Homo sapiens: one gene and its partners. The protein of the gene in region 3 purifies or fractionates together with the protein of the main gene of each other region. This does not show direct contact. Each region holds a gene or a part of one and is shown on either strand. Other genes may lie near its edges. The genes, in order: LARP7, CTCF, RPL26L1 and TRA2A.

The links.
Region 1: the proteins of RPL26L1 (region 3) and LARP7 purify together in Homo sapiens (affinity purification with mass spectrometry; 3 studies listed by BioGRID). This does not show direct contact.
Region 2: the proteins of RPL26L1 (region 3) and CTCF purify together in Homo sapiens (affinity purification with mass spectrometry; 3 studies listed by BioGRID and IntAct, with this or other methods). This does not show direct contact.
Region 4: the proteins of RPL26L1 (region 3) and TRA2A purify together in Homo sapiens (affinity purification with mass spectrometry; 3 studies listed by BioGRID and IntAct, with this or other methods). This does not show direct contact.

What each region holds. Positions count from the first base shown.
Region 1 is NC_000004.12:112,633,158-112,640,148, reverse strand, and holds the start of LARP7 (la-related protein 7), read right to left. Parts: upstream 3,007-6,991; 5' UTR 2,910-3,006; intron 2,648-2,909; exon of another isoform or gene 2,546-2,647; intron 2,506-2,545; exon of another isoform or gene 2,362-2,505; intron 1,532-2,361; exon of another isoform or gene 1,476-1,531; intron 1-1,475. Other genes in the region: 5'-3' DNA helicase ZGRF1, read left to right, coding at 6,973-6,991. UniProt on the Homo sapiens protein: RNA-binding protein that specifically binds distinct small nuclear RNA (snRNAs) and regulates their processing and function.
Region 2 is NC_000016.10:67,635,513-67,639,697, reverse strand, and holds the end of CTCF (transcriptional repressor CTCF), read right to left. Parts: intron 3,009-4,185; coding exon 2,847-3,008; intron 2,011-2,846; coding exon 1,826-2,010; 3' UTR 521-1,825; downstream 1-520.
Region 3 is NC_000005.10:172,954,471-172,962,444, reverse strand, and holds the start of RPL26L1 (ribosomal protein uL24-like), read right to left. Parts: upstream 3,022-7,974; 5' UTR 2,977-3,021; exon of another isoform or gene 2,818-2,976; intron 2,581-2,817; 5' UTR 2,572-2,580; coding exon 2,404-2,571; intron 1-2,403.
Region 4 is NC_000007.14:23,507,968-23,515,000, forward strand, and holds part of TRA2A (transformer-2 protein homolog alpha), read right to left. Parts: intron 5,116-7,033; coding exon 4,927-5,115; intron 1-4,926. UniProt on the Homo sapiens protein: Sequence-specific RNA-binding protein which participates in the control of pre-mRNA splicing.

The DNA of each region.
Region 1 (6,991 bases), on a different chromosome or scaffold from region 3:
TGGCCAACAAAGTGAAACCCAGTCTCTACTAAAAATAACAAAATTATCTGGGTGTGGTGGCCCATGCCTGTAATGCCAGCTACTCGGGAGGCTGAGGCAGGAGAATCGCTTGAACCCAGGAGGCAGAGGTTGCAGTGATTCGAGATCGTACCACTGCACTCCAGTCTGGGAGACAGATTCAGTCTCCATCTCAAAAACGAACAAACACAAACGTAGGCTATAATTATCAATTATTCTATAATTGATAATTATAATTCTATAATTGATAATCTATAATTATAAATTATTGATAATTATCCAATTATCAATAATTCTATCCAATTATTCTATCCAATCTCTTGTTAAATCCTATCAGTTTGACTTTTGAAATGGCTCTCATCTCCATCCAGTGTTTTCTACAACTACTGCTACAACTGTCACTAGAATATGCCAATAGTTTATAAACTGTTCTGTAAGTCACCCATTCTCAACAGGAGCCTATGTATAACCCATCTAAAACACAGACCTGGTTTTGTGATGCTTCTGTCAAAACTTGCAACATTAGAAATTCCTTAGCACCTTCCCGTAACATAATATGCAGTTTATGAAAACACTGTTTTAAAAAAAAAAAGTAACACTTGGCCAGGCGCGGTGGCTCACGCTTGTAATCCCAGCACTTTGGGAGGCCAAGGCGGGCGGATCACGAGGTCAGGAGATGGAGACCATCCTGGCTAACAAGGTGAGACCACGTCTCTACTAAAAATACAAAAAAAGAAAAAAGAAAAGAAAAAAATTAGCCGGGCATGGTGGCAGGCGCCTGTAGTCTCAGCTACTTGGGAGGCTGAGGCAGGAGAAAGGTGTGAATCCGGGAGGCGGAGCTTGCAGCGAGCCGAGATCGTGCCACTGCACTCCAACCTGGGCGGCAGGGCAAGACTCCGTCTCAAAAAAAAAAAAAAAAAAAGTAACATTTAACTGGCTTTAAATGAAGAATAAAAGTTATTGGGTAACAATACCAGTAACTTTATATACACTTTTGTAAATCCTCACAATCCCACTAGGTAGCAGTTTCTTCCATCTTAACACAAAAACTCAAAAAGGTTTAAGTGACTTGGCCAAAGCTAGCTAAGTAAGTTGTCCCAGGTATGTTTGATCCCACATTGTCTACCTTTTGGTAGAATTTCCCGCAATTTATCACCACGGACTCTATGTTCTGACTCAGGAATTCTTAATCTGAAGTCCATGCAACTTTGGCTGGACAAGAATTCTAGTGGGCTCCATTAAATTGTAAATGATACATTTTAAAGATAAGGTAAAATCAAGACTCTTGTACAAATATAAAATGAATACACGGTAAAGATTTAAGCACAGTCATGGGTTGCTTAACGACAAGGACACATTCTGAGAAATGCACAGTCAGGTGAGTAAGTACATCATTGAGTATGTAGTTATTCTATGATGTATTCACACAAACCTAGGTACTATTGCCTATTACTCACCTATAATCTTATGGGACCACTGTCATACATGCGGTCTGTCGGTATGTGGTGCTTGACTGTAAATAAGGGAACCAGTTAAGTGCTAAAAACCAGTTCAAAGGAGAATTTAAAAAGCAGGTACACAGGCAATCAGGAACGTTGAAATGAATATTAATAAATACTGCTCAGGACAATAATTAATTGCATCTTTACTGGACAAACCTAATTTCCATGTTGCTGTAGCGAGTTACAGGGTTGAAAAATAGTTCAAAGACCACGAAAGACATAGATAACTTGGAAGAGTGAGTCAGACAAGACACCAAGTCATTTGTGTGTGTTTGCTATTTAAAAGTATTTCGTAATTTCTCCTGAGGAAATTATATGAAAAATGTTTGTTTGGAGACGCAGCCTCTCTCAGTGGCCCAGGCTGCAGTGCAGTGGCGCGATCCCGGCTCACTGTAATCTCTGCTTCCCGAGTTCAAGCGATTCTCCCAACCAAGCCTCTTGAGTAGCTGGGACTACAGGTGTGCACCACCACTCCCCGCTAATTTTTGTGTTTTTAGTAGAGACGAGATTTTGCCATATTGGCCAGGCTGGTCTCGAACTCCTGACCTCAAGTGATCCTCCCGCGTCGGCCTCCCAAAGTGCTGGGATTACAGGCGTGAGCCACCGTGCCCAGCCTCGCAAAATGTTTTAATAGGTACATGCACGTTTTCCTGAGAAGCTAATCCATATAATTAAGTTTTCAAAAGAAGTGTGCCACAACAGGTTAAGAATCATTGTTCTGGTCACTGCTTACAACTCAAGTCCCTCAACACGTAGTGGCCTGTGTGTTCTGCTTTGTCTGAATCTTCTCGTCTAAATTTCCTTATTAAATTTTCAAGGCCCAGGTTAAATGGCATCTTACTCTTTGAGATCTTCCACCACCCTGTGTCCTATCATTTGTTTTCTCTTAAGTTTCTTTGCAAACGCACTCTGCACACCATATCTAGCAAGTGTTAGTTCCCTTCCGTAACTGGATTTTTTACTCTTTGAGGACGATGGCAGAGTCCTGCAAAAGAAGATGATAATTTTAGAATATAAATCCTCACGTTCGCTATCTTCTGGCAGCCACAGCTCAGCTCCAATCTGCGAAATACGGCACTCTCTTTATTGACTACTGCTTCTCTCGGCACCCGTACTTCCGCAAGGACGCCGTCATAGGCCGGGCGCGCCCCAAACCTCCCCACGCCGGGCCCCTATGCGCCCTTACTGTCTGAAAACGGGAACTACAAGTGCTGCCGAAGACTTTTGCGCGTGCGCATAGATAACTAGGCCAAGGAACTGATGGGTGTGCAGGACGGGGGGGCGGGGTAAGAAGGACGATAGATGATAGAGTGGACCGCAAGAAAAAGGACGGAGAGTTAATTAGACTTCGCCCAAGCTGTGCGACCCTATAGGCCGCTTGTAACTTACTCCGTTCGACTCCCAAAATACAGGGTCAAGTACTGCGGCCTTCGGACATTTCCGTCTCCGGATCCTGATAGTCTCGGTTACTTTCGCGTCATAGGATGAGCGACAACGTTTTCCGGTCCCAATTGAGAAAGACGGGCCCGGAGGCAGTGCGCGCTCCACCTACGTCACAGGCGAGGTGGTTCCAGGAGGGCTGGGCATCGGAGAGCGCGGCCGGCTGAGAGACTCGAAGCCAAGGAAGAATTTGATTGGCGATTTGAAAGCGGCGGTTTTTGGCTTAGGCGGAGGTGGGCGGGCCAAGTTTTGGGTCCTCATCTGGTGAGGTCCCGCGTTAATGACGTCACGTTGTTTCGCGGGAGAAATTCGAAAGTGGATTTTGTGCAATTTGACAGGTGAGGTGAAGTGTTTCTCGGGATTTCCTAGGAATGACTTGAGCGATTTGGGGCGAAGGGACGAAAGACTCTGCTCCTTAAGAAGAGAACCGGGAAGGATGCTGTTTGGAACCAGGATTGGGGTGGTCGCAGTCACAGCTACTCGGACTGCTTGTAGTAAGTGGTGCCTCTTCACCGTTTTTCCCAGGCCTTGCTTTGCAATTTCGAGTAGGTATGAGGACCAAAGAGGGCTTTGCTGTTTGTATTTAGGACTGAGAAAGGATCAAGTCTCCATTGTCATTTGGTGACAGGATTATGGTTCTTAGAATCTTGGCAAATGAGATGTGGGTTTCCTTTGTTTATTTGGACTGGATGGTTTGTTAACAATGTTGAGTTCATGATTCCAAAACTTTGTTATCCGAACTATTTAGAGGTTCAGGTTTAGGTTCAAAAAATACTCCTTGTTTAAAAAAAAAGGAAAAATATCTAGTATTTAAATGAATAATGGCTCATACTTTACTGAGAACACCGAGTTTTATGTATATATATTGCGTCCGTACATATAGTAGCACAATGTATATGTATGTATATGTGTGTATGTACGTATATCTGTGTGTATGTATGTATGTATATAATTATCACAGAGCATCTGGGGTCTTTAAAAACTTATTTGGAGATTAATCTTTCACCTATTAGAAGTCGGTCAACAGGTGAATTGTCTGGTAGACGTGGACAGATGAACACTTGGAAAAAACTCTTTGCATCTCACTTAAATATATATGATGCTGTTGTCTAAAATAATTTTTTCTGATTAATACTAAGATAAGAAAGGGTGTTGACTTTCAATGAATAAGTATTAGAGCTCTTCTAAATTTTAAAAGATCCAGTTAGCTTTTTTTTTTTAGGTTTTCTCCTATAATCGAATTTAACCATCCTTTAAGAGTTTCAGTCTTCTTAGTTCTTTTTAAACTGTACATTCCAGAAGTAATATCTCAATTTAGGAAAATAATGGAGAATTTATCTTGCAATTGTGAAATAGCATATAAGTTATCCTAAACTAGTAAATACTGGGTTCCTAATCTGTAAATTGTAATAATGCTTATTCTTCAGGATTATGAGACTGATAAATACTGTATGTAAAGTATCTCGTCCAATTCCTGCCTGATACATAGTATGTAATCAATAAATATATATAATTACACACGATAATCATATAATTGTATATTACATAATACAGTAATATAGTTATATATTATATAATTACATAATAATTATAATGTATATAATTAACAATATAATGTATATAATGTTTATAATATAGCACTTTGGGAGGCTGGAAGGATTGCTTGAGCCCAGGAGTTTGAGGCCACAGCGAGCTATGATTGCAACACTGCACTCCAGCCTAGGTGACAGAGTGAGACCCTGTCTCTGTAAAAGAAAAAGAAAAGTTAAAAAGCCAACAGAAACAAAACCTCCAAATAAAGCATTTAACAGTTTCTAGCATATGGTAGCACTGAATAAATGGTAGCTATTAAACAGATCTGATATTAATAATTGCCACATGCCCAGCACTGTGTCTGTACCATGTATTCTCATCTATGTATACAGCATATCTAGCCCAGGAGTGTTTTTCTCGATCTCTCTTTTATCTTCTTGGCATTCTTAGGCATCAGCAATTTATGTACGCCGGAGGGGAGGGAGATAGGATGTGGAAGTTGTATTTCTTTTTTTTTTTTTTTTTTGAGATGGAGTCTCGCTCTGTCGCCCAGGCTGGAGTGCAGTGGCGTGATCTCTGCTCACTGCAACCTCCGCCTCCCGGGTTCAAGCAATTCTCCTGCCTCAGCCTCCTGAGTAGCTGGGACTACAGGCCTGTGCCACCATGCCCAGCTAATTTTTGTATTTTTAGTAGAGACGGGGTTTCACCATGTTGGTCAGGCTGGTCTCGAGCGCCTGACCTCATGATCCACCCGCCATGGCCTCCCAGAGTGCTGGGATTACAGGCGTGAGTCACCACACCCGGCCAGGAGTTATATTTCTGAAAGGCAGTCCTTCTGTAGGTTTGGTTTCTGTCCTGTGACCTGTGTCACGAAGCAAGTATGCATATCTCATTTGCATACCCCTTACCTATTCTTTCTCCAGATCACCTTGATTAGTCAAGGGAAGATGCCAGTCACTTTCTTGCACTTCACCGCCCCCGCCTCGCCCTTTTATTTTTTTTTTTTGAGACAGTTTTGCTCTTGTCGCCCAGGCTGGAGTGCAGTGGCGTGATCTCGGCTCACTGCAGCCTCTGCCTCCTGGGTTCAAGTGATTCTCCTGCCTCAGCCTCCCAAGTAGCTGGGATTATAGGCACGCACCACCACACCTGGCTAATTTTTGTATTTTTAGTAGAGACAGGGGTTTCACCATGTTGGCCAGGCTGGTCTCGAACTCCTGACCTCAGGTGATCCACCTGTCTCGGCCTCCCAAAGTGCTGGGATCACAGGCCTGCAATTCTTGTTTGGGAAGACCTTCACTGGCCTTCCCTTGACTAAGGGTTATTTCAGCTTACAGCTTAGACTTTACTTCCTTGAAGAAGCCTTGTTTGATGATCCACACCAAGCTGGGTGCCCCTGCTGTGCTTATTCCTGCCTTATTTTATTAAAATTACTGTTTATCACCCCGCCATACTGAAATTCCTTCAGATGGAGGATAGAGTTTCCATTTAAATACTTTAGCATAATATCTGGCACAATAGTAAGTACTGAATAAATATATGTAACTTATAAATAATATGTAAGTGGCATATTTTATATGTCTAAAAGAGGAACTGAAATCACAATTACAGCTTTATTGAATCCTTCTAGGTCTTTTAGATCTGTATTCTCAAACTTGAGTGTCCATCAGCATCACTTGGAGGGCTTCTTAAAACACAGACTGCTGGGCCCCCAACCCCAGACTTTCTGACTTAATAGGTCATTTCTTACTAGTTCCCAGATGATACTGTTGGTCCAGGGGTCACATCTTGAGAACCACCTTAGGGGAAAAAAAAGAAAGTATGTTTCTTTGGCATTTCTGTTTACTTCTTCAGGGATCACCATCAGTGATTTTAGATTTCCAAATTTGCCCACAAAAACAGTTTTATCCAATAGCATAACAACTACAGTAACTGTTGCAACAGTGTTGGAAAGATTTTTCCTTGTAGAGGTACTATGTAATTGGTCCTAGATACTGTGGTATATTGATGCTAAGAAGTGAAAGGAAAAATTTAAAACACAAGGGGGCCATCTTGTGGTAACCGTAGCAATTCAGAAAACTTTAAAAATTGAATTTGCGCTATAGGGAACCAAACATGTGGAGGACAAATTCGTGTTTTCTGATACATATTATGCATCTGGAAAAATGCAGACTACAAGTTAATTTATGTATTTTACTTAGTTTTTTCTTTACTTATGAAAAAATGCTTGTTTCACAGCATGGTATCACTTTTACTGTGTCCTCAGTGATAGATAATTACACCTCTGTTTCCCTTGGTAGTTAGGTAATCTTGGAACTCCTTGATTCATGTCTGTGGTTGGGAGTTTATTGAGAAAAATTATATTTGATATTTTTTAAAAATCAGGGTTGAAATTTTATGTCATTTTTAATTTTAGGTGGTATAAATAGTTGAATATTTCCTATTTTCTGGACCCAGCTGGTTTATAACTTCAGAAGAAATAATGGAAAGCCAAGAATTTA
Region 2 (4,185 bases), on a different chromosome or scaffold from region 3:
AGTTACAGCAGGGGCCGGGTGTGGTGGCTCACGCCTGTAATCCCAGCACTTTGGGAGGCCTAGGCAGGCGGATTACAAGGTCAGGAGATCGAGACCATCCTGGCTAACACAGTGAAACCCAGTCTCTACTAAAAATACAAAAAATTGGCCAGGCATGGTGGCAGGCGCCTGTAGTCCCAGCTACTCGGGAGGTTGAGGCAGGAGAATGGCGTGAACCTGGGAGGTGGAGGTTGCAGTGAGCTGAGATTGCGCCACTGCACTCCAGCCTGGGCAACAGAGCGAGACTCCATCTCAAACAAAACAAAACAAAACAAAACAAAACAAAAAAACAGTTACAGCAGGATGCGCTCAATATCCAGTCACCCGCCAAGATCATATCGTCCCATCTGCTAGAGAAAGTACCATCCCAGGGAACAGAGGTTGCCTGTGAAAGGCAGCAGCCTGCACAGCCTGGAACCATGTATGCAGCCCCCCAGCCTCCCTCAAGCAGGCAGGAATCACGCAAGATGGAGTCTTTGGAGCACTTGTTAATCCGTTATGATTTATTAGCTGTACAGCAGTAGATCCTCCTCCCCAGCTTTCAACCCCATTACATATTTTATTACAGGTCTCATGTTGGCGTCCTAAAATAATGAAAAATATCACACAGTACAGCTAAGTACAAAATGCATCAACCTAGAGTCTGATAGCTAACTGATGGCTCTCTTAAAAGCAATACACAGAAGAAAAAAGTGTTTGAAATCAGTAAGACTGAGGCTCTCTAAAAAACACATTTTTAAACATGTGACAGTTCATGTGCAAGAATCACTTTTTAGTTGGTTTTGCTTCACATTATTTTATTTTTTGAAGATCCAAGGTTTAAATTACTGACCTAGTGAAATTTTCTGGCCCAGCTTATAAGGGCTGCTGTGAACCACTCATAATCACCCTTCTGCCTTAACAGAAGATTTATAAAACACAACAATCAGCTACAAACAGGGCAAAGAAAATGTCGATGGGAAATCATAACTGAAAGTTAATTATACAAGGTTCAAATGCTGGCTCCGTGGGCTGGAAATCATGATCTGCCACGTGCATGTCCGTCACTGGTGGGCAGTGGTCTGGGTGCCATTCTGCTACATGATTGTGATCCAATTCCTTGTCAACATTTACACACTACAGAGTCTGTGGTAACTTAATTTGCAAGTAATTAAAATGCTGGGTTTTCTTACACTGCACTTCTTTTCAACCTCTTAATTAATGGAAAAGATTAAAATGTAAAAAAAGTTATTTACAAGCTTGACCATACCAGAAACTTTGCCAAGAAAGAGGCAAAGCTTTCAGGACAGAACCTGATCGTAGCATGCCATACTACTGGTGTGCAGCTGACTCCAAGCAAAGGGAGTCAGGGAAAAGCAAAAGCAAAAAACAGTTTAAAACTCTAAGTCCTTCCCAAGTATGCATTTACAATTAAAAACTCTCTTGGGAAGAAGACCATAGAACTCTGGGAAGCCTGGTGGCCATTCTGGAGTGGTTTACCACATGGAGGGAGGGGTCAATGTCTCCGTTTCCATCTAGGAAAACGAGTTAGTTGTCAACACTGTCCTCAGCACTTCACAGTAAACCCTCAGGGACTCAGAACATTCCATGATTTGCTAACATCAGACAGCAAGTTCTAGTTAAATCACATTTTTTTCTAACATCATCCTTGAAGTTTTCGTTCTCGGTATGTTTGGTAAAATGATGCTTTTCCCAAAGCCAAAAAAAGAAAGAAGGGAGAAAAATTAAGATGCGGGCCGTTTAAACACAGCCCAGAGAAGTCCTGGCGACGCACAAGGCTCCGCCATCACCGGTCCATCATGCTGAGGATCATCTCGGGCGTGAGGTCTCCGTTGGGGGCATCTGTGGCAGCTGGCTGGGCCTCCTCTTCCTCTCCCTCTGCGGGCTCAGCATCTGGCTCTTTTTTTACTTCAACTATAATGTTCTCAATTGCACCTGTATTCTGGTCTTCAACCTGAATGATAGCTGTTGCTGGCAAAGAAGAGCACAGACAGAACAAATGGTCCATTAAAGCCCCAAGAATCACAAGGGTCTTTTAGACTGACAGCGAACGGGATGTCAGCAATGCAGGACAGCCTTATTAGATAGCGGTCCAGAGACAGTCAATTTATTTTTTATTTTATTTTTTGAGACGGAGTCTTGCTCTATGACCAGGCTGGAGTGCACGGGCATGATCTCAGCTCACTGCAACCTCTGCCCCCCGGGTTAAAGCAATTCTCCTGCCTCAGCCTCCTGAGTAGATGGGACTACAGGTGCCCACCCCTACGCCTGGCTAATTTTTGTATTTTTAGCAGAGATGGGGTTTCACCATGTTGACCAGGCTGGTATGGAACTACTGACCTCAGGTGATCCTCCCGCCTTGGCCCCCCAAAGTGCTGGGATCACAGGCATGAGCCACCGCCTGACCCTGAGTTTCTTAGAAGGGGCAATCTCAGTGCAGAAACTGCTTTCCCTCTCCAACCTTTACGATTTGGCTCTTTTATATTCATTACCGCATCCATTCTGCCAGCTGACTGTGACTTTGGTTGTTTTTCAAAACCCGCCCACATTAACAGTACCCATCTTGCAGAACACAAGTACCCTTCTACTCTGGACTTCTTCTTGAAATGTAACAGGCCTCTAAAGACTTCCTCAGATGTTCCTCAGTAAAAACTCCTAAAAAGCCATTTCCTGAGAGTTTGTTCTCGACATGCCCTTAACTTGTTCTCATGGCTTAGTTCCCACATCCCCAAAGAACAAGGACCCATCTGGCTCCCCCACATGCTCGGAGAAGACGCCAGCCTCCAGAGCAGAGATGAACAACTTACGCTGGTTCTGTTTGGGCTGGTTGGTTCTGCCAGGGGGTCGTCCTCTCCGCTTCTTGGCGGGTGGTGGGGCTGGGGTCACAGGCTGAGGCTCTGGCTCAGGTTCAATTTCTACGGCAGGCTCCTCCTCATCCTCATTGTCGTCCAGATCTGGTTCAGCATTTTCTTTTCATGAAATCAGGAAGCACAGGTGGTGGGGCAAGGAGAAGGGTGGTGGAAGATGAAAGAAAACAATTATATATTATTTGAAGTCTTGTTTTATAAATATATATATATATATATATACACTTTCTTTCTTTTTTTTTTTTTGAGACAGTCTCACTCTATTGCCCAGGCTGGAGTGCAGTGGCGCGATCTCGGCTCACTGCAATCTCTGCCTCCCAGATTCAAGCAATTCTCGTGGCTCAGCCTCCTGAGTGGCCGGGACTACAGGCACGCACCACCATGCCCAGGTAATTTTTTTTTCCTTCTTTTTTTTTTTTTGAGACAGAGTCTCACTCTGTCGCCCAGGCTGGAATGCAGCGGCACGATCTCAGCTCACTGCAACCTCTGCAACCTGGGTTTAATTCTCCTGTCTCAGCCTCCTGAGTAGCTGTGACTACAGGCATACGCCACCACACCTGGCTGATTTTTGTATTTTTAGTAGAGATGGGGTTTCACCATATTGGTCAGGCTGGTCTTGAATTCCTGACCTCAGGTGATCCACCTGCCTCGGCCTCCCAATGTGCTGGGATTACAGGCATGAGCCAACGTGCCCAGCCAATCCAGATAATCTTTGTATTTTTTGTAGAGATGGGGTTTCGCCATGTTGGCCAGGCTGGTCTCAAACTCCTGACCTCAGGCAATCTGCCTGCTTCGGCCTCCCAAAGTGCTGGGATTACAGGTGTGAGCCAGCATGCTCAGCCAATTATTAAGAAAAATCAATTTAAGGCTGGGCACGGTGGTTCACACTTGTAATCCCAGCACGTTGGGAGGCTGAGGTTGGAGGATCACTCATGTTCAGGAGTTCAAGACCAGCTTGGGTAACATAGTGAGACCTTATCTCTACAAGAAATAAGAAACTGGCAGCTGGGCGTGGTGGCTCACACCTGTAATCCCAGTACTTTGGGAGGCTGAGGTGGGTGTATCACCTGAGGTTGGGAGTTTGAGACCAGCCTGTCCAACATGGAGAAACCCTGACTCTACTAAAAATATAAAATTAGCTGGGCGTGGTGGCGCATACCTGTAATCCCAGCTACTCGGGAGGCTGAGGCAGAAGAATCACTTGAACCTGGGAGGCGGAGGTTGCGGTGAGCTGAGATCCGCCACTGCACTCCAGCCTGGGCCACAAGAGTGAAACTCT
Region 3 (7,974 bases):
CCTCCGCCTCCCGGGTTCAAGCGATTGTCATGCTTCAGCCTCCCGAGTAGCTGGGATTACAGGTGTGCACCACCACGCCTGGCTAATTTTTTGTATTTTTAGTAGAGATGGAGTTTCACCATGTTTCCCAGGCTGGTCTCAAACTCCTGAGCTCAGGGGATCCACCCGCCTGGGCCTCCCAAACTGCTAGGATTACAGGCGTGAGCCATCATGCCCAGCCTGCCAAAGGTTTTAAATAGGACCTGATTTGCAAATAATACCACTCTGTGGAAAATGGACAAAGGTAAAAGAGGGAACTGCAATGCTGCCTTGAACTGGACAGGAAATAGGTTCAAGACTTACTTTGGAGGTAGAATCAACAAGCCTTGATGGTAGATTACAAGAGGGGGTTAAGGAGCGTTGTTAAAGATAACAAAGGTTTAGGGGCATATGCAGCTGGGGAGATATAAATGGCACTTACTGGAGATGTGGAAGATGGGAGTAGAGTTGGATTCTGGAGGCAGTGAGAGTGTTAGGATCAAGAGTACTCTTAAGAAGCTTGAAATGTCAATGGGCTACCTAAATAGAGATGTTCAGTAGGTAGTCAGATCTATAGGTCTGTGTTATAGGTAGTCAGATATACAGGTTGTCTAAAGTGGTCTGGACTGGGATATAAAAGAGGGAGTTGTTAGCACACAGCAGACATTTAAAGCTCTAAGAACGGATTATTACCTATTCTTTACCTACGTAGAGAACACAGAGCAGAAAGAGATGCTAGATGTGTCCACTGGATTCAGTCACGAAGGGATTATTAGTGATCTACGTCAAAGTAGGTTCTATAATGTAGTGGGGACAGGGAATAGACTGAAGAGAATCCAAGAGTGAATGGGAGATGAGGAAGTGTAGACAGCTCTCTTGAGGAGGTTGGTTATGAATAGAGAACAAAGTGTAGTAGCTGGAAGGAAATGTGGGCTAGGGAAGTGAATCCAAATTTTCCAGCTCTCTTTGAAAATCCAAGAATCTAACAATGGGCCTGCATTTCCCCCAGGCATCAATGGGCTAAAGGTAGATGATTATATCTTATATGTGAGGCTTGAGCTTTCCAGTTTGCCATTTTCTATCCCTACCTATCCCCTATAAGTATTTGCAATTCCCCCATTCTAGAACATGTCTGATGGGAAGGATCCAGGAGAGAGGGGGTTGAAACTGCTGATCATACCTCTGAACTACTCTTTCCACTCTTCCTGTCACACTTCCGGCTTAACTCCACATTTTTTCCTCCTTAACATATCCCCAAACCTTCAAAGAGTCCCAGTGTCTCAGATGATACACCAAGCCTCATCACCTTATGTCATTTCATTCTCTAAGACAATAGCTCTTAACTGAGTGAGGGAAGAGTTGATTTTGCCCCCCAGGGAGCATTTGGCAATATCTGGAAATATTTTTGCTTGTCACAACTGTGAAGGGAGGGAGTGCCACTGGCATCTAGTGGGGAGAGGCCAGGGACGCTGCTAAACATTCTACAATGCACAGGACAGCCCCCACCCCCCACCCCCCACAACAATTATCCAGTCCAACATATCAATAGAGCTGAGGCTAGGAAACCCTGCTCTAAAACGTGATCTCCATGAGAACAAGGGCCTCGTCAATCTTGTCCTAGAACAATCTCTGGTAAGTGCTCCATAAATATTCCTTTGAGGAATGAATCTAGCCCCTGCTTATTTCACTCATATCCAACTCCCTTCCCTCCTCTCATGCATTCTAAGCTCCAATCACAGAGAACAGAGGGCTTGTACGTTCTCACATGGGCCAGTCTTTTAGAAATTATGAAAGAGTGACTCGCTGCATCTTTACCAGTTCTCCTGCCAAATCCAATGCTATCACATGGCCAGCTCCCACAAATCTCTGTCCATCAATCCCACTACACCCAAATACACTAAAACACTACTCTCACTGCAGCACCTTCCCCTACAGTCTGGTTCAACAAGCCACCCTGGGCAACAACACTTGGCAAACTAGCAGCCAGAAGGTTAAATCAAAAGTATTTTTGGTGGGGCACGGTGGCTCACACTTGTAATCCCAGTGCTTTGGGAGGCTGAGGTGGGAGGATCACTTGAGGCCAGGAGTTCAGAGACCAGCCTGGGCAACATAGCAAGACCCTATCTCTACAAAACAAACAAAAAAGCAGGTTTTTGCTTGGTTGACATACTGTTTTATTAAATTTTACTATTACTATTAAATAATTAAATGCTCTAAAGCAACGCAGGCACTCTCTGGTGGCTCTGAACCCTATCTCTGGCCTAACACATCTGAAGGGTCACACTACTTTCCAGAGTCCTGAGGCATGTGAGTCTGTGACTGCTCCACGCATGACGTTCTTAGGCAACGGTGTCCGAGCGCCACTAGCGCCGGAGGGAGACGTACCTGGACCTCGTCGTCCTTGCGGATGGGCATGGAGCGGACATTGTACTTCTGCCGCAGCTCCTTGGAGAGCGGGGATGACATGATCTTCCTGCGCACGTGTGAGGGGGCATTGAAGTGACGTTTGCGGTTTTTACTGCGGTCCGAGGTAACGAAGGGATTGAACTTCATGGTGACCCTCTACAAAGGGCGGAGAGAGACGGAATGAAGGGGCGCTCAGTGGGTTACAGGGGCCTGTTCTCGACCCAAGACACTCCTCATCCCCCAACAAAGGCTCTACAGGGGAGGTAGCCTCTGAAAAGGCAACTGAGGGAGGACAGAGAGATGCGACTAGTCTGACTATCACATAAAGTGAGGCGTGTGTGGAGGTCGCATGCCCGTCTAAAGGGGTCGTGGGGGAGAGGGTAGCACTGGGACCTTGAGGCTGAGGAAGGAATGCTAGGGTTAGGCAGGAATGGGTGGTCGGGAGGTCACTCAAAGAGAGCTGTGGGGTGACATGTGTTCCCGCGACACATAGGGCAGGGTCTCACGGGGCGGTAGAGTTCACTGTCCGAGAAAACTCCAGCCTCCACTCACCCGGCTACTAGCTGCCTCAGACCCTGAGTGCGCAGGGCCGGAAGTGAGTTTCCGTGCCGCGCAAGCGCAGAAAGACATCGAAGCCCCATTTCCGTAGGAGCGAAGTCGAATGGCGCCCCCAGCGGCTTGGGGTGGGATCTCAGTGCCTCATTCCTGGCGGCCCCGGGAGGGCGATGCCAGTGAGTACAAGGGCCTGCTTGTGTAGGGCCTGCGGTAGAGGCTTACTGGTGTTCTTTTTTTTTTTTTTGAGACGGAGTCTCGCTCTGTCGCCCAGACTGGAGTGCAGTGGCGCGAGCTCGGCTCACTGCAAGCTCCGCCTCCCGGGTTCACGCCATTCTCCTGCCTCAGCCTCCCGAGTAGCTGGGACTACAGGCGCCCCCCACCACGCCCGGCTAATTTTTTGTATTTTTAGTAGAGACGGGGTTTCACCCTGTTAGCCAGGATGGTCTCGATTTCCTGACCTCGTGATCCGCCCGCCTCGGCCTTCCAAAGTGCTGGGATTACAGGCGTGAGCCGCCGCGCCCTCCTACCTCTACTTTTTTCTATCTCTGGGACTAAACGGCGGCCGGCGGCGTGCCTGCGGGTTTGTGGCCGCCGCCCCGCCCCTCTCTCCTAGACCCCGCCCCTCTCATCCAGTCCCCGCCCACTCCGGCCGCTCCGCGCCCACCTGTGGCCCTCTTGGCCCTTCTGCCCGTGCCTGGCCCCGCCGGGTCGCTCCCGAGCTCCGCGTTTCGTTCGCCGACCCCTGGAAGACTGCCTGGAGGCCCGGGCGCCACCCAACCACTGGCTAGGCCGACACTTTGCGCGGACCCTGGGTGTAAAAGGTCCCCGGGTCTCTGGTCCCGACGGAGCTGTGAGGGAGATCAACCACGCCCCCTCCGTGGGCACCGTGGCGGCAGGGAAGGAAAAGGGCTCTGGGTCTCGACTCTCTTCGGGTTAAGAACCGACGGGGTTTATTCTATGCAAGGTGTTATTAACTCCAACTCTCCCTTTCGTTCATTCATTCCATATATGTTGAACGACAACTTAGTGCCAAATGCCGGCATGCTGAAACTCAGAGAGGGAAGATGTCTTGCAAGTACAGCAGCCACACCCAGGCAGGTCCCGTGCTCTCTCTTAGTTTATCAGTGTTCCCTGACATGTAGTGGTGACATTGTTAAACACCTGCGTTTACTAATACTAGATTTTTTTTTTTTTTTTTTTTGAGATAGAGTTTCGCTCTTGTTCCCTGGGCTGCAGTGCAGTGGCACCATCTCGGCTCACCGCAACCTCCGCCTCCCAAGTTCAAGCGATTCTCCTGCCTCAGCCTCCCCAGTATCTGGGATTACAGGTATGCGCCACCACGCCCGGCTAATTTTGTATTTTTAGTAGAGACGGGGTTTCTCCATGTTGGTCAGGCTGGTCTTGAACTCCCGACCTCAGGTGATTCTCCCGCCTCGGCCTCCCAAAGTACTGGGATTACAGGCGTGAGCCACTGCGCCTGGCCTACTAATACTAGGTTTTATTCCGGGCCCTTCACAGTTAATGTTGGAGGCCTCTGGAGGATGGCCACACCTGGGCTATTTGCAGAAGCCTGGACAGCACAGCAGGCAGAGTTAAAGCAGTTAAGGCAGTATCAGCTGAAGGGCCACCCAGCTGTGCGTGTGCCCAGGCTCCAAGAATAAGGAGGTTGGGGGGCAGTCCTAAGAAAGGAAGTCATTACCTATCGGCAACCCAGGAGCAGACGCTGGCATAACGGCGCACACACAGTAAAGGTCAGAGGTTCTTCTTAGAATAGTCCTTAGGTGTTAGTCAAACCCATGCCCTGCCCCAAGGAGTTCATTCATTCATTCACTCATTCATTCACTCACTCACTCACTGGTTCTGTTTATTCACTCATTTCTCTATCACATATCCATTTATTGTCATTCACCCACTTATTTACTCATACATTCATTCATTTGCTCATCAATTTATTTGGTACCTACATGGAGCCAGGTACAGGTCTTGATTAAAGAGATCTGGGGAGGAGTGCTCCCAAGAAGTTCAGAGCCTCACTGGTGAAGGAAAGCCATGTAAAGACAGATCTTGAGAACCCAAGATCATCAAGGAGTATCCATGATCAAGCAGAGCAGGGAAGGCTTTTTGCTTTGTTTTGTTTTGTTTTTAACATGCTGTGTGGTTCAGTAAAATTAAAACAGGCACAATGATATCCTGGATGACAAGAGCTGGAGGCTGTCATTCTAACAATGTAGTGAGACTGGCTGTCTTGTCTCATGCCCACCCCTGGAAACATGCGCAGGAACTCAAAGCACCTAGCACAGAGGAAGTGTCTGGTGAGTCTTTTTATTTCTCGAGGCAGTGGCTGCATGGGGAAGTGCTTGAGCCCTGGCACCCAAATCGCTTGGGTTTGGATCTCTGCCACTGCCTGGTTCTTTGGCTTTGGAGAAGATATTCAGCCTCTTGGTCACTCAGTTTATTCCCATCTGAAAAATGGGAATAATGATAGTACTTACCTCATTGGTTTGGTGTCAGGATTTTTTTTTTTTTTCGAGATAGAGTCTCGCTCTGTCGCCCAGGCTGGAGTGCAGTGGTGCAGTTTTGGCTCACTGCAACCTCCACCTCCCGGGTTCAAGTGATTCTCCTGCCTCAGCCTCCTGAGTAGCTGGGACTACAGGCGTATGCCACCACGCCTGGCTAATTTTTGTATTTTTAGTAGAGACAGGGTTTCACCATGTTGGTTAGGCTGGTCTTGAACTCATGACCTCAAGCAATCCACCTGCCTCAGCCTCCCAAAGTGCTGGGATTACAGATGTGAGCCACCACACCCGGCCTGGTGTCAGGATTAAATGAACCCTTAGCACAATACCTGGCACAGAGGAAGAACTTAATAAATGTTGGAATTTATTTATTTATTAGATGGATAATAATGGCTCTTCTTAATGGGCTGAGCATTTACTGTCAGGCATTGTGCTAACAGGTTTACAAGCATTACCTCATTTCAGTCCGTTAAATAACAGTATGAATTGTCCCTTTTACAGGTGAGAAAACTGAGGCTCTGAGTGAGATGGGAACAAAGGATGGACATAATCTACCATTAGATGCTCAATATGGTTATTATTTATCTTGCAGCCCATAAAGATAATAATGCGATCCGTATTTATTAATCTAGGAAGATGTCTGTTAAGTGAGGGCTAAGCTATACAATAATATGAACAGTATGATCCCATTTTGCTTATCAAAAGGCATCACTAAAATGTTATCATTAAATGATCATCTCTGATTAGTGGGATTACGGGTGACTTTCGTTTTTCCCCTTTTACTTTTTTTAGTATTTGATAATTTTCCTCCAGTGGGCTTATGAGCCTGTGTTATTTGTGTAATTAAAATTACATTTTGAAGATTTAAAAAATTGTAAGAACGCTGTCCCTGCGAATGTTTAATTTAGATTTTCTCTGCAGGTTGTTTTAAAGGAAAAACAAAACCAAAAAAAGCACCTCCTGCTCTGACCACCCCTATTTCCAGTTTTCCCTTTTGGCACAGCAAAGATGACCTTGGGACTGAGGTGGAACCATGTAATTCTTCGTAATCCCAGAGTCAGGCAGACCTGGGTATGAATTCCATCTTTACTAACTGTGTGACTCACTGTGTGGCCATGCCAAGTTACGAGGTCTCTCTGTTTCCTCCTTCCTAAAAAGGAGATAACATCCATCTCGAAGGAAGATCTGGCCTGAAGAGCAGTCACTCTTGCCTGGCATGCAGAGAATGCCAAATCATATTAATGACTGGCCAGAATGAAGTGCGTGACCTCATCACTCCATAACTGACAGGAAACAACTGCTAGGGCAAGAAAAAAGGGTCTCCAGTGAGTATTCTTGTCCACACACATCCCCACTCACGTTCCTGGACCACTGCATCTAACTGCCGCAGCAGCTAATGAACCTTCTGGAATAAAGGACCAGTTTCTTAAGAAGGGATTGAGACCTCCAGTGGCCTCCCACATTGTTTCCGGCAAGAATTTAAAAATTATTTGTAACATATAGTAATAAAAACTAACCACAGGCTGGGCGCAGTGGCTCACGCCTGTAATCCCAGCACTTTGGGAGGCTGAGGCAGGTGGATCACCTGAGGTCAGGAGTTCGAGACCAGCCTGACCAATATGGTGAAACCCTGTTTCTCCTAAAAATACAAAAATTAGCTGGGCATGGTGGTGGGCGCCTGTAATCTCAGCTACTCAGGAGGCTGAAACAGGAGAACTGCTTGAATCTGGGAGGTAGATGTTGCAGTGAGCCGATATCGCGCCATTGCACTCCAGCCTGGGCAATGACTCCGTCTCAAAAAAAAAAAAAAAAAAAAAAAACTAACCACAGCTACTATTTATGAACTCTAGTGCCACACCCCATTTCTTCCCAGGTTTCACCCCCTCTTCCCAGGTTTCACCCACCCCAACCAGTGTTGTTTGCAACACTTCAGCTTCTCTCCTCACGAAGCACGTCTCCAGAGACGCCTCTTCCGCAACTTCCCAGGGAAGCCATTTCTGCCTGGACCCACCACAGCTCCCAACCTGTCACGCACCCCTGGAGGGTTTTGCTCTGTAATCCTGATTTAGAAATCCTCTTATATGAAACCACTGTAATCCACATCTGGTTAGACAATTGGAAAAGTTCATTGAAAGGAGAAATAATAAAAATGGCATCCATCCCTTAAATGTTGTATGCCAACGTAAAACACATTCGACAATGACCCTGGGCTAAGGCTCTACCTTACAGAGAAACCTGTATCGGTGTTCCCCTCCATTTTCCTTACATAAACCAACCAAAAATCTTCAGTTGTTCCGTTCTCTGTCTCTCTCCCTCTCCACACCCACCTTCCCTCTTCCTCTCTCCCTCCCTCCCTCTCTCTTTCTCTCTTTTTTGAGACAGAGTTTCACTCTGTCACCCAGGCTGGAGTGCAGCGGCTAGATCTTGGTTCACTGCAGCCTCCACCACTCCCCCCACTTCCCCCCCGCCGCCCCTGCCC
Region 4 (7,033 bases), on a different chromosome or scaffold from region 3:
CTCCAGCGATTTCACTTACAAAGACTGACTTCAGAACATTAAAAAGGGTTTGCTAAGCTTTATACATGTTCTTTTTATAACCTGCCCCCAATCTTATTCTTTAGTTTGCAGTCTAGTACACTGATTAAGACTCAGTGAGCAGCCAAGAAGAAATGATATAAACAGACAAGAACAAATTTATCGTAATGCCTTTCAACCTTTTATTGAGACTGAACTAATAAAAGTATAATAAACTAATAAAAACTACACAATTTTTATGTATCCACAAATATTTCTCCGTAAGAGTGTCCCATAAACTAAAGGTCATTAAAAAAAAAAAAAAAAAAAAAAGGAGGTCTCACTCCATTGCCCAGGCTGGCAGTGGATCATAGTTCACTGTGGCCTCAAACTTCTTGGCTTATGCAATCCTCCAGCCTTAGTCTCCTAAGTAGCTAGGACCACAGGTTTGTGCCACCATGCTCGGCTAATTAAAACAAAAATTCTTGGTAGAGAAGGGGTCTAAACAGTATTCCATTCAATGGAATGCATTTTATTATTTATTTATGAGACCAAGTTTCGCTCTTGTTGCACAGGCTGGAGTGCAATGGCGTGACCTCGGTTCACTGCAGCCTCTGCCTCCCAGGTTCAAGTGATTCTCCTGCCTCAGCCTCCCAAGTAGCTGGGACTACAGGCATGCGCCACCATGCCCAGCTAATTTTTTGTATTTTTAGTAGAGATGGGGTTTCACCATGTTGGCCAGGATGGTCTCGATCTCTTGACCTTGTGATCCTCCTGCCTTGGCCTCCCAAAGTGCTGGGATTACAGGCGTAAGCCACCACGCCTGGCCTGCATGCATTTATTTTTGTAGAGACAAGATCTGTTGCCCAGGCTGGTCTCTTAACTCGTGGCCTCAAGTGGCCTTCCCACCTCAGCCTCCCAAATAGCATGAGCCGCCTTGCACAGCCTAATTCTTGAAGATAAGAGTTGTCTCTTTGGTCTCTTTGAAAAGAACTCTGAGAGTATTATTTGTTTCTGGGACAATTTTTTTTTCCTATTCTCTCACACACATATATATATTTGTAGAGACCAAGTCTCCCTATGTTTCCCCAGGCTGGTCTCAAACTCCTGGGCTCAAGTAAATCCTCTTGCCAAAGTGCTGGGATTAGAGGCATGAGCCACCACACCCGGTCCAATTTTTAAAAAGAACTTTACATCACATAAATGTCTGCAAAAGCAAAGCTGCAACAAATTTAACACATCTTCCATTTGAAGTTCCAAAAATCAAAATTCTCTAAGTTGATCTCCCTGCACCCCATCCTAAGCACCCCCCAAAAAAACACACACAAAATCTCTAAGTACTTCTTACTAAAACAGGGTGAGGAGCTTATATTATTATCTTCACCATATGCACACTAATAACTTTGAAACTTCAGTGAAATTTTCAGAATCAGGGAGAAGTTAGTCAAAAAGGAATACAAATTTTAAAAAGATTTTAAAAATCACTTTAGGCTGGGCGCGATGGCTCACACCTGTACTCCCAGCACTTTGGGAGGCCAAGATGGGGGGATCATGAGGTATCAAGAGATCAAGACCATCCTGGCCAACATGGTGAAACCCCATCTCTACTAAAAATACAAAAATTAGCTGGGTGTGGTGGCATGCACCTATAGTCCTAGCTACTCGGGAGGCAGAGGCAGAATTGCTTGAACCCGGGAGGCAGAGGTTGCAGTGAGCCGAGATTGTGCCACTGCCCTCCAGCCTGGCAACAGAGCAAGACTCCGTCTCAAAAAAAAAAAATCACTTTAGCCAAGTGAAGTGGCTCATGCCTGTAATCCTGGCACTTTGGGGAGGCCAAATCACTTGAGGTCCAGAGTTTGAGGCTAGCCTGGGCAATGGGGCAAAACCCCGTCTCTACCAAAAAATACAAAAATTAGCCGGGCATGGTGGTGCGCACCTGTTGTCCCAGCTACTCGGGAGGCTAAGGTGGGAAGATCACTTGAGCCTGGGAGGCGGAAGTTGCAGTGAGCTGAGATCGTGCCACCACACTCCAGCCTAGGCGACAGGGCAAAGAGCAAGACCTCATCTCCAAACAAACAAAGAAACAACAAACAAACAACAAAAAAAGAAAAAAATCAAATCACTTCAGATTGCCTGTCCCTAAAGACTGGAGACAGTCTCAGCCATACAGAAGAAACCATACAACATGCCTGTGTTAGCTGAGAATTCAGCCTGGGCAACTGAAAAGAGAAACTGTGATTTAGCTGACAAGCCTCGTCACCCCGCTCCTTAAGTAACATATTGTCACCTAGTGAACTAAAAGGAACTTCTAATCCTGCCACTAAGTAACTGCTCCTGTCTTTAAAGTTGCCAGTTAAGCTTTTTTTTCTTTTCTTTTTGAGATGAAGTGGAGTCTCACTCTGTTGCCCAGGCTGGAGTGAAGTGGCACAAACTTAGCTCACTGCAACCTCCGCCTCCTAGGTTCAAGCAATTCTCCTGCCTCAGCCTCCCGAGTAGCTTGGGGTTACAGGCGCTTGCCACAATGCCCGGCTAATTTTTGTATTTTAGCAGATGGGGTTTCACCCTGTTGGCCAGGCTGGTCTTGAACTCCTGACCTCAGGTGATCTGCCCGCCTCAGCCTCCCGAAGTGCTGGGATTACAAGGTGCGAGCCACTGTGCCCGGCCTGCCATTTTAGTTTTATCCAGAAGTGGAAGGGGACAGGTGGAATCAAGAGATAAACACGTTTCACATTAAAAAATATTAATAATAAAAAAATTACACTGTTCTGGCTTGCATTTTGCAACTTTTACTTCAGCTCAGATATCCTAGTATTTCTAAATTGATAACATGTATCTCTTAATTGAGAAAAGGAATATATAAATCACAAATACGTAACAGTAAAAAAAAAAATCATAAGACTGACAAATTAAGGCATTAAACTGCCTGTGACATAAATGACTTAAAAACTAAAGTACTAGTTTGTTAGAGTTATCCGGGGTTTCTCAACCTTAGCACTATTGACATTTTGAGACTGATTCTATGTTATGGGGTGCCAGCTTGTGTACTGTATGGTTATTTAGCAGTGTTCCTGGCTTCTACCCACCAGATGCCAAGAACTTACTGTTTTTAAAAGATAGCCTTATTTGGCCAGGCGCGGTGGCTCACACCTGTAATTCCAACACCTTGGGAGGCTGAGGCGGGTGGATCACGAGGTCAGGAGATTGAGATCATCCTGGCTAACACAGTGAAACCCTGCCTCTACTAAAAATACAAAAAATTAGCTGGACATGGTGGCGGGCGTCTGTAGTCCCAGCTACTCGGGAGGCTGAGGCAGGAGAATGGCATGAACCCGGGAGGTAGAGCTTGCAGTGAGCTGAGATCGCGCCACTGCACTCCAGCCTGGGCGACAGAGCGAGACTCCATCTCAAAAAAAAAAAAAAAAAAAAAAAAAAAAAAAAAAAAAAAAGAAAAGAAAAGAAAAGAAAAACACCCTGATTATTAAGGTCTAATAAAACTTCCAGATATATACAAATATATATATATTAATTTAAAAGACAGAAGGTCTAACAAAACTAAAAGTATTGAGCTTCAAATTCTTTAAAATGCAATTTTCTAAATCAATTACTATCAACTTTTAGTAAAGAGTAAGCGAGCCTAGGCCAGGTATGGTGGTTCACATCAGTAATTCTAGCACCTTGGGAAGCCAAGGCAGGAGGAACAGTTGAGGCCAGGAGTTGTTCCGAGACCAGCCTAAGCAACACAGCAAGACTCCCTGCAAAAACTTAAAGCAAGCCTACCACTTCCTTTATAATACCGAACATGTTAGAATAGCACTATTTCAAGTCATTGACATTGATTAGTTCATTGTGTTAGGCAAGTTAAGAATAGCACTAAAAAATTATCAATTCTTTCCATGTACTATTTTTCAATTATTGAACACACTGATAAATGAACATTTAGAGAATAGAAAAACAAGTTCCTTCCTCATTATAGACACAAAATTAAACATATCAAACCCACACATCAGAATTATTTTTTAAAAGTTAATGTAATCATCTGTTTGGAGCATCATTATGGCTTATTCAAAAGAGAACACTTACACATATACTTTTTCCATTAATTTAAACACATATAGCTCACTTTACACAGCCAGATTTCAATTAGGATATGCCTATAGCAGAGAGCATAACCAAAAAAAGTGAAACTGTAGTCACTCCAATTGTTAACACTGAGAGGCAGAGTTTGAATCAGGTCAAAATTAGAAAGGACACAACAGGCCATGTATGATGGCTCATGCCTGTAAACCCAGCATTCTGGGAGGATCACTTGAGGCCAGGAGTTCGAGATCAGCCTGGGCAACATAGTGAGACCTCATCTCTACAACAAAAAATTATCTGGGCATGGTGGCCCACACTTGTAGTGTCTGCTACTCAGGAGGCTGAGGTAGGAGGACTGCTTGAGCCCAGGAGGTCGAGGCTGCACTCCAGCCTGGGCAACAGAGCAAAATCAGCAAGATCCTATCTTTTTTTTTTGAGACGGAGTCTCACTGTGTCGCCCAGGCTGGAGTACAGTGGCGCAATCTCGGCTCACTGTAAGCTCTGCCTCCCGGGTTCGCGCCATTCTCCTGCCTCAGACTCCCGAGTAGCTGGGACTACAAGCGCCGGCCACCACGCCTGGCTAATTGTTTGTATTTTTAGTAGAGACGGGGTTTCACCGTGTTAGCCAGGATAGTCTCGATCTCCTGACCTCGTGATCCACCTGCCTCGGCCTCCCAAAGTGCTGGGATTACAGACATGAGCCACCGCGCCTGGACGCAAGATCCTATCTTTAAAAAAAAAAAAAAGAAAAAAAGGAAGAAAAAAGGATGCAATGTTTACAGAAATAAGTCTATTAATCAACTTTTCACACTAATTCAGTACTATAATCAGGCATATAAAAGACAAATTTACCTCCTTTGAGTCATCTATTCTCTCAAAATACACAAAAGCAAATCCTCGAGATCGCCCAGTTCGCTGATCATAAACCACATTGACACCACTCAATGGTCCATATCGAGAAAATACTTCACGAAGATCCCTCTCTGTTGTGTACAAACTGAGGCCAAACACTCCAAGGCAAGTGTTGGGATCTGGATTTGCCTATTGAATGGAAATATTATTTAAAACTCCAAATTAAAATCAAAATCAAAGAAACACAGAAATACTTTGTTTAGAACACCTCATCTAATACACAATAAATATATTGTTTCTAATAATTTGGAGATAAGATTTTAAGAGAACTAGAGCAGATGAGCCATATTTTACAATTCACAGTACACCCAAGGCCTTCTTTGGGATATGCTTTCTGTCTATAGCCTGAATTAAAATGTTCTTACTCTCCAGCCCAGCAATGTTCATAATGTATCCTGAAAATCTTGTAATCCCAGCATTTTGGGAGGCTGAGGTGGGTGGATCACCTGAGGTTAGGAGTTCGAGACCAGCCTGGCCAACATGGTGAAACCCCATCTCTACTAAAAATACAAAAATTAGCTGGGCATGGTGGCCGGCGCCTGTAATCCCAGCTACTCCAGAGGCTGAGGCAGGAGAATCGCTTGAATCCAGAAGGTGGAGGTTGCAGTGAGCCAAGATCGAGCCATTGCACTCCAGCCTAGGCGACAAGAGTGTTAGAAATGTTTGTTTCTCGGTGTTGTAAAGAAATAGCACTTGAACATACATTTTTTTAGTAAGGCCATTTTTATTTTCTGTAGAAAGGGTACGCTTGTCAGCAGTTTTGTCACAAGAGTACACTGAACAAAGGAGACAGGGTCATTTATAATCTGACGTGTCTACCTTACTGTTGTGTCTGTTTTTTATTGGCTGGAATGGGACTTCACATTCTGATTTGTCTTGATTGGCTAGTAACTTCAAACTTTTTAAAAGAGGCAAAGGCGGAGGAGAACAAAGGAAGGAGGAAGTAATTTGTGGAATGTTGAGAAAGGTAAAAACACCTTTAAATAAGGAAGAGGAACAGGCTATGACCTAATGCTTGTTTGGACCAGTATAAGCATGTTAGGGCAAATACTTAGGCTAAATTGTGGGAGCTAAGAACATAAAGTACATTGATTTTTTTACTACGGCTAGTAGATTTTTTTTTTTTTTTTTGAGACGGAGTTTCACTCTTGTTGCCCAGGCTGGAGGGCAATGGTGCGATCTTGGCTCACCGCAACCTCCACCTCCCGAGGTCCAGCCATTCTCCTGCTTCAGCCTCCCAAGTAGACGGGATTACAGGCATGCACCACCACCCCCAGCTAATTTTGTATTTTTAAGTAGAGATGGGGTTTCTCCATGTTGGTCAGCCTGGTCTCCAACTCCCAACCTCAGGTGATCCACCCCACCCGGCCTAGCAGATATTTAAGAATGTTAGCACAGCTCTTTGAATAAATTTTGCTTCTAAGAGAAATTATTATCTATTTCTAATTAGATGGGGAGGAAAATCTCTTTGAACAACCTTTACTTTTTATAAGAGTGAAACTCCGTCTCACTTATAAAAAAAAAGTATCCTCAGTTTAATACCATCTTTCTAGTTAATTCAAATGCTTTACATCCCTTACAGATTTGTACTTAATCTGACTTCATCTGTAATTGTTGATTTAGACCTCCTCTCCTCCATTTTCTTTCTTTTTTTTTTCTGAGACAGGGCCTCACTCTCTTGCCCAAGCTGGAGTTTACTGGCCTGATCATGGCTCACTGCAGCCTTGGCCTCCTTGGGCTCAGGGAATCCTCCCATCTCAGCCTCCCAAGTAGTCGGGATTACAAGCGTGAGCCAATATGCCTGGCCCATTTTCATTCTTTAGCGAGGATATTCTTTCAGTGTTCCCACAATCCAGATTTTAGAAATAAATTTACAGATTTCAAAACATTAAATAATGACATGCTCCACCACAGTTTAAGTTAGTATCCTGTGGGAGAAGCATAGTACAGCATGCAAACATGTTCTAAGAACTTTAGAGCCCGGCTGCCTGGTTGAAACCTAGACTGCTAGTTAGCAAAAACTAAACCAAAACCAAAACTAAAACTC